Linked DNA regions of Homo sapiens. The protein of the gene in region 1 purifies or fractionates together with the protein of each later gene. This does not show direct contact. Each region holds a gene or a part of one and is shown in the gene's direction. Other genes may lie near its edges.

What was found.
Region 2: the proteins of CCDC110 (region 1) and TGFBRAP1 purify together in Homo sapiens (affinity purification with mass spectrometry; one large-scale study listed by BioGRID and IntAct). This does not show direct contact.

What each region holds. Positions count from the first base shown.
Region 1 is NC_000004.12:185,454,545-185,458,370, reverse strand, and holds part of CCDC110 (coiled-coil domain-containing protein 110), read left to right. Parts: coding exon 1-245; intron 246-555; coding exon of another isoform or gene 556-605; exon of another isoform or gene 606-629; intron 630-1,041; coding exon of another isoform or gene 1,042-1,175; exon of another isoform or gene 1,176-1,970; coding exon of another isoform or gene 1,971-2,035; exon of another isoform or gene 2,036-2,052; intron 2,053-3,826.
Region 2 is NC_000002.12:105,322,962-105,326,787, reverse strand, and holds part of TGFBRAP1 (transforming growth factor-beta receptor-associated protein 1), read left to right. Parts: intron 1-3,826. UniProt on the Homo sapiens protein: Plays a role in the TGF-beta/activin signaling pathway. It associates with inactive heteromeric TGF-beta and activin receptor complexes, mainly through the type II receptor, and is released upon activation of signaling.

The sequences.
Region 1 (3,826 bases):
TACTGAAGACAAAATACTTTTAGAAAATTACGTAAGAAGCATAGAAAATGAAAGGGATACCTTGGAATTTGAGATGCGGCATCTTCAACGAGAATATTTAAGTTTAAGTGATAAAATTTGTAATCAGCATAATGACCCTTCAAAAACAACTTACATTTCAAGAAGAGAGAAATTCCATTTTGACAACTATACTCACGAAGATACTTCTAGTCCTCAGAGTAGGCCTTTGGCTTCGGATTTGAAAGGTACGCAAGTCCTGGTAGATTAGTAGAGATGTGTTTAAGATTCTTTTAGCCTATTGGGCACTACAGAGTACAGAAATAAGGAGGAAACTTTAAAATGAATACAATTTTGTTTTGTAAAATTTGTATCCAATTTATTATACAGTGAAATTATTTAGGAATTTTTTCTAGATAAAATATATATTATTTTGTTTATATTATGTGCATTGTATGTGTACAAACCAAGTTTGGCAGTGAGCAAGAGGGAGTTAATTATTATTTTAAAGTATAAGTAGCACTCCCACCTTAAAAGAATTCTTTTTTTTTTCCCTAGGAATTCCAAGTAAACTGTATCATTTGCTTCCATCCAAGATATATAAATAAACTGCTAAAATCAATGTTTCAAAACCTTTGTCCAAGTACTTTTTCCCCCCACAAAATAATTTTAAATTATGTGATTACATTAACCTGGTAATTGATTAGACTAGTTTTTAAAATTAGAAATTGGAATTAAGTATATATTTTATACTGTCAAGAACGGTGGCGAATCTGAGATTTTACCCAACTAGTAAGCTCATATTTTAGCCTGCCACAGTTTTGTGGGTTCTAGTGGAAGTCACAAGACTCCTGAGCGAGAGATTAAGGAGAGTTTGTTACAATAGCAGGAGCCAGGGAATCAGCATGTTTGCATTGGTTGTCCAAGCCCCAGTTTCTACAGGCAGTGTAAAGAGGATCACACAGTGGATTGCATTACAGGAGAGAGTGAGCTTAGAAACCCGAGTATTATAACGGATAGTAAGATGCCTGCCCTTTCCTGTAGGTGGAAACAATACACATGCCTGCCCTGGCTCCAGAGGAAACACAATCTCTAGCTTCCAAGGTTGCAAGCACACCTGTTCTGTGCTCCAGAGACACTCTGTCTTCCAAGACTGCTATTCAAATATTCCTTGTTGAATTCTGTCCAAAGCTTTTTCTACATTTATTGGAGGTGATCCTGGTTTTTCTCCTTTAATCTGTTAATATGGTAAATTATGTTAATTTTGAAACACTAACCTTGAATTCCTGGGATAAACTCCACTGGGTGATGTTGTATTATTCTTTTAATATACATTCCTGGATTCAATTTGGTAATATTTTGTTAAGGATTTCTGCTTCTGTATTCAGAAGGATGTTGGTCTGTATTATTTTCTTGTAATGTCTTTGTCTGGCTTTGGCATCAGGAAAATCCTGTTGGGAAGTGTTTCCCCTCCTCTATTTTCTGAATTTGTGTAGGATTGGTATTATTAATATTATTCCTTCCTTAAATATTTAAATATGTAATACTCATACATATTTGTAAAATATATAATATGTAAATATTCACCAGAGGGCCTGGATTTTTCTAAATGGGAAGGTTTTACATTGCTAAATGATTTCTATTAATATAGAACTACTCAGATTTTCTATTTCTTGAGTTAGAGTTGACAATTTTGTATGTTCTGAGGAATTTGTACATTTCATGTAAGTTCTCAAATGTATTGTCACAAAGTTGTTCATAATATTCCTTATTAGCATTTTAACGTTCAAAGGACTTGTAGCGATGTCCCCTCTTTAATTTCTGACATTGGTAATTTGGGGATTCTTTTTTCTTTATTATTCTTGCTAGAGTTTTACCAATTTTATTTTTCTTTTCAAAAAATCAGCTTATTATTTCATTGATTTTTCTTGCTGCTTTGTTTTTTTCTTCCATTGATTTCTGTTCCTATTTAGTAATTTCATTCCTTTGGGTCGTCTGGTGCTACTTGGCTCCTTCCCTAGTTTCGTACCTGCATTAATAGCATCACAGAGTCTGGTATGTTTTCATTTTCATTCAGTTCAAAATACTTTCTTTTTCACTTGTGATTTATTCTTTGACCCAATGGATTGGAAGTGAGTTGCTTGATTTCTAAATGTTTGGAGATTTTCAGTTATTTTTCTTTTATTGATTTCTAATTTAATTCTGTTTTGATCAGAGAACATAATCTTTTTTAATTTATTGAGACTTGTTTTATTGCCCAGAATAAGGTCTGTCTTGGTTGATGTTTCAGGTGAACTGGAGTGTTCTATAAATGTCAACTGAGTAAACGTGGTTGACAGGTTTGAGCAAATCTATATCTGTACTGATCTTGTGTCTGCTTGTTCTAACAGTTACTGATAGAGGAACAGAGAAGTTGATTTGTTCATTCTATAAATTTGTTTAGTGTGTTTTAAAGCTCTTTTAATTTTTATTATTAATATTTTTTTTTTGAGATGGAGTCTCACTGTTGTCAGCCCGGGCTGGAGTGCAATGGAACAATCTCAGCTCACTGCAACCTCCACCTCCTGGGTTCCAGCAATTCTCCTGCCTCAGCCTCCCGAGTAGCTGAGATTACAGGCGCCTACTACCATGCCCGGCTAATTTTTGTATTTTTAGTAAAGACGGGGTTTCACCATGTTGGCCAGACTCAGTCAAACTCCTGACCTCAGGTGATCCACCTGCCTCGGCCTCCCAAAGTGCTGGGATTACAGGCATAAGCCACCGCGCCTGGCCAAAGCTCTTTTATGTATGCATACACATTTAGCACTATTATGTCCAGTTGGTAAACTGATACCTTTATTATTATGAAATAACCTTCATTATCCCTAGGGGTATTCCTTGTTCTAAAGTCTCTGATATTGATATAGCCCCTCTAGTTGTCTTTAGATTGGTATTTGCATAGTATATCTTTTTGCATCCTTTTATATTTATTTTGTAATGATGAATCAGTAGGAGAAACTCTGAATAGTTAAATAATAAATATATACCATGAAAATGGATTACTAAATCCTGAAAATCAAATATAAATCAAAGAACTAAAGTATTAAGAAAATAACTAATGGTGAGCACTATATCCATTTAAATACAAAATTAAGATTAAAGAACTGTTTGAATTATGGTTACAAAATAGAGTGTTAGTGTTAAAAAAACATTGACAATATAAAACAAACAATATAACTAAAAAGTTAGGTGCATCCTTTTACTTTTAACCTACCTTTGTCTATTTTGTTTACTGCTGAATCCCAGTGTCCAGAACCATGCCTGGAATATAGCAGACACTCAACATCTGTTAAGTGAATGATGAATGAACAGGCTGCCATTACACTAGAATATTAGGCAGAGGCTGGGCATTCACCTTGTACGAACATTATAAAGAGTTTTAAGTATCAAGAAGTTTAGACAAAATTAGCTGGGTGGGGTGGTACATACCTGTAGTCCCAGCTACTCAGGAGGCTGAGGTAGGAGGATCGCTTGACCCCAGGAGTTTGAGGCTGCAGTGAGCTATAATTGTGCCACTGCACTCCAGCCTGGGTGACAGAATGAGACCCCATCTGTTAACAACAACAGCAAAGCTTAGACAAGATGACATTTTAGGTCACTTTCTTTCTTTTTTATTTTTTTGAGATGGAGTCTTGCTCTGTGGCCCAGGCTGGAGTGCAGTGGCCTGATCTCAGCTCACTGCAACCTCCGCCTCCCAGGTTCAAGTGATTCTCCTGCTTCAGCCTCCTGAGTAGCTGGGACTACAGGCATGTGCCACCATGCCCAGCTTATTTCTGTATTTTTAGTAGAG
Region 2 (3,826 bases), on another chromosome or scaffold:
TGACAACTGACTGGATATTATGGACTATCAAGTCCTGTAGGTACTCAATAATTTTTTTTTTCTTTTTTTGAGACAGGGTCTCACCCTGTCACCCAGGCTACAGTACAGTGTCGTGTTCTCGGCTCACTGCAACCTCCATCTTCCAGGCTCAAGTGATCCTTCCACTTTAGCCTCCCAAGTAGTTGGGGCTATAGGCACATGCCACCATGCCCGGCTAATTTTTGTATTCTTCTATAGAGACAGAGTTTCACCATGTTGCCCAGGTTGGTTTTGAACTCCTAAGCTCAAGCAATCCATCTGCCTCGGCCTCCCGAAGTGCTGGGATTATAGGCATGAGCCACTGCTCCTGGCCAGTACTCGATAATTTTTTGTGGCTGTTTGAAGGTTCAGTATTGAGGAAGATGTTATGAAGTAAATGCCATATTTCTATTCTGCTCTTCTTCTACCTCCCACTTCTCTTCCTAAACCCTTTTAATTCTAACTGCTGATGGTACTCTTATAGGATGTATATTATATATATGTACATACACACACACATACACCCTTATGCATATGTATGTATACACACACCATATATAGTATGTGTATATATGTGTGTGTATATAAATATATGTTTATATGTATTTAAATAATTTTGATTAGTATTGCCCAGTAAAAAGGATACCAACTATGAATAGTTACATATATTAAATATACATCATGATAATATTAAGATGACAAGTTAGATATTAGACCTTAACTGTCTTTTTTTAATCCTCTTTTTTTAGATACTCTTGCAGATTATCAGAGCAGGTTCATTGCACTATAACTAATCTTGCTGTCTCTGTTGCATGAGTGCAAAAGATAACATAAAATGGTTGTCAAGCAGTATCTTCATTTTCAAAGGGGGGAAAAGTTGACTTTTGTACAAGCCAGTAAATTTATTGTTGATTCCTGACAAATTTCAAGATTGAGTCATTCAACAGATGGCTGTGGGACTTAGAGAAGAACACGGGACCAGCATGGGGTGCAGCTCAGGAAAAGCAGTTGCTGTCACATAAATGTGTATCCTGTTTTGGTAGATTACTATGTTAGTAGAGAACTGTGTCAACATACTATTCTGTGTCTGAATTTCAGCAAGCAGATAGAGCCACAGGATTCCTCTTCTAGACTCACGGTGGGGAAGCAATAGCAAAGACTCCTCAGGAACTGCAGCAGCATGCCACTCTAAGTACCATAGTGGCCTCCTGCTGAGAGTTGTTGCTTTGTTCAGAACTGAATTCTAGGAGAGGATCTGAAATCATACTTGTTCCCCTCAATCAATAAGAATATGGCCTTGGAGTCACGAACAAAAACTAGGGTCAAAGCCCTGTTTCATCACCTTGTAGCCAGGTAACCTTGAGCAAGCCACCTAAGATCTCTGTATCTCCATAATAATGTCCACCTCTCAGCGTCAAGGTAAGAACGAAAGGATAATGCTATATCGAGTGTGCAGTATCCCACCAAACCCAGTTTTGGGGCTCTCCTGAGGGGGCAGTCAGGGTGTCAGCCAGGGCTGCAGCCTATGGGTGCCATCCATCATCCAGGCTTGGGGCAGCATTGGCCTTGGGAGCCAGTGTGGCATCTGATTAAGGATGTGTGCTTTGGAGCTGACTACCTGGGTTGGAATCCCAGCTCTCTACTTACCAGCATGACTCTTCCACCTTTCAAGACCTCCATTCCCTTCCTCTTCATCCAGAAGTAGCTGGAGAATGGTATAGGAGAAGCACACAGCCCAGTCCAAATTTCTGTTTTATAGAGAACACAGGCCCAGACAAAGCCTCTTAGTGAGTTGCCTAAGATCATCAGGAAGTGACCAAGCAACAAGCAGAGCTCAGGATTCCCAGATTAATGTCGGGAATGTCTGCTATGCAGCGTGCCCACATTTACCACAGTTCACTGCCGGGGTGGCCCAGTTTCGCTCTGGGGCCTTGATCCTTATTACTGAGGGGCTGTGCTCCTTCCCAGCCTGAGTGTCCACCCTCAGAGTCCCCCACTTAACTGCTTCTCCCAAAGCTCATGGTATATCCAATTCTGAACACAGCAGGAGTCAGCTCACATTCACCCCAACCCAATCTCAGCCCCTCTGTCAGGGGAAAGACTCCAAATGAGTAAAACTCCCAAACTCTCCTCTGAAATGCATTTTCAGAAGGAAAAAAAAACTTTTAACTTATGGGTATTATTCATGCTTGTAATTTTAAGCGAGGACACTTGGCTGGAGAAAAATCACCTCTAAAAGTGGCTCAATAAAAAAGGCTCCAGTAGCCCAGAGTGTGCTAGCGCAGTCCTGGGCTGGACTGATGGGTATTGGTTCATGCTTGTCCTTTTTAGTCACTGACACAGTCTTATGACTGTTTCCTTTCCTGCTAGAAAAGGAGATTCCCAGGTTTCTTTTCTATTTCTTGATCACTCTAAGGTGAGATAATTACCCAATATACCACGATTACATTTTCATTTTAAAATTTGAAGTAATTTTGGACTTACCTAAGAGTTGCAAAATAGTGCAGAATTCATGAATACACTTTACCCAGCTTCCTCTTTTGTTAACGTCTTGTATGGCTGTAGTATAATGATCAAAATGAATCAATTAGTGCTAGTATACCACTATAAAGTGCACACAGTATTTGAATTTCACCCGTTTTTCTGCTTAATGTCTTTTTTCTGTTCCAGGATCCTTTTTCTGATCCAGTTTCCCCACTTTGCATTTAATTGTCACTTATTCTTGGCTTCTAATCTGTGACAGTTCCTCAGCCTTTCCTCTTTTTTCGTGACCTTAACACACTTGAAAGGGTGTGAGAGATTTTGTAGACCATCCCTCAGTTTGGATTTATCTAAACTCCTCCAATTCCCATGGGGGATTCGAGATGCTCTCTGACAATCACCTTCACAATCTATAGAAACAACACATTTAAGAAAACCACATCAGTATCTCAAGACTTTAAGTCAACCCGTAAACCTACCAAAATGCATTTTTCAGATGGGACTTCAGTGATTGTCAGAGAGCCTATCAAACCCCCCATGGGAATTGGAGGTGTTTGGCAGTTTGTTTTCTAGTAGGGACTTTTGTTGACATCTCATTTCACTCATTTAGCACAAACACTGCATCTGAAGGTAGCTTGCAGTGGGAGAATATTGCTGGCAAGGTTTGCCTTTTCTCACCCAATATAGAATTTTGAGGCTGTGATTTGGCTCTTCATTCAGTCAGGAATGCAGCATGGGAAATAGAGGTTTTCAAGCCTTCACTCCCTGCTGCCTGCAAAAAAAAGTGTCCAGTCATACCTGCCTGTCCTGCTCAATACCCACGATATGATGGTCAGGAGAGGAAGAATGGGCATGAGGTTGGTGCCTGTGCCAAAGGGAGATAGGAAGGTCTGAGTTTGCACTGAGTCCCAAGGGGTCGCAGAGATAGAGGCTGAGCAGCAGGTCCCTTGGCAGCTGCCCACGCTGTTTCTGTTTCAGGAAGCTGACAAAGCCAGAGGTGGGTGTCAGCACATCCCCCCGCCCCCTCTACTGAAGTCACCACCTGACTTTTCCAGGCTCTCCCTCCTCATCCAGGCGTCACAAGAGCCACCATCACTGGGACCACAAGAAAACTGGCCTCCAATGCATGCTTCTGAGTCTTTCTCTCTTAAACTTCTCAGGACCAGCCTCAAAAAACATGGGGAATAAGGCAAGGTGTCCCACTGTGTTGCATACCACCCTTTTCCTTCACCTTCCTCCTCACCACCATGGTTTGCTTTTGGCTGAGTCCTCGGTGATTTAGCTTTCTCTCCTAATTATATGGCACCAGCATCCTGACTGGTTGATT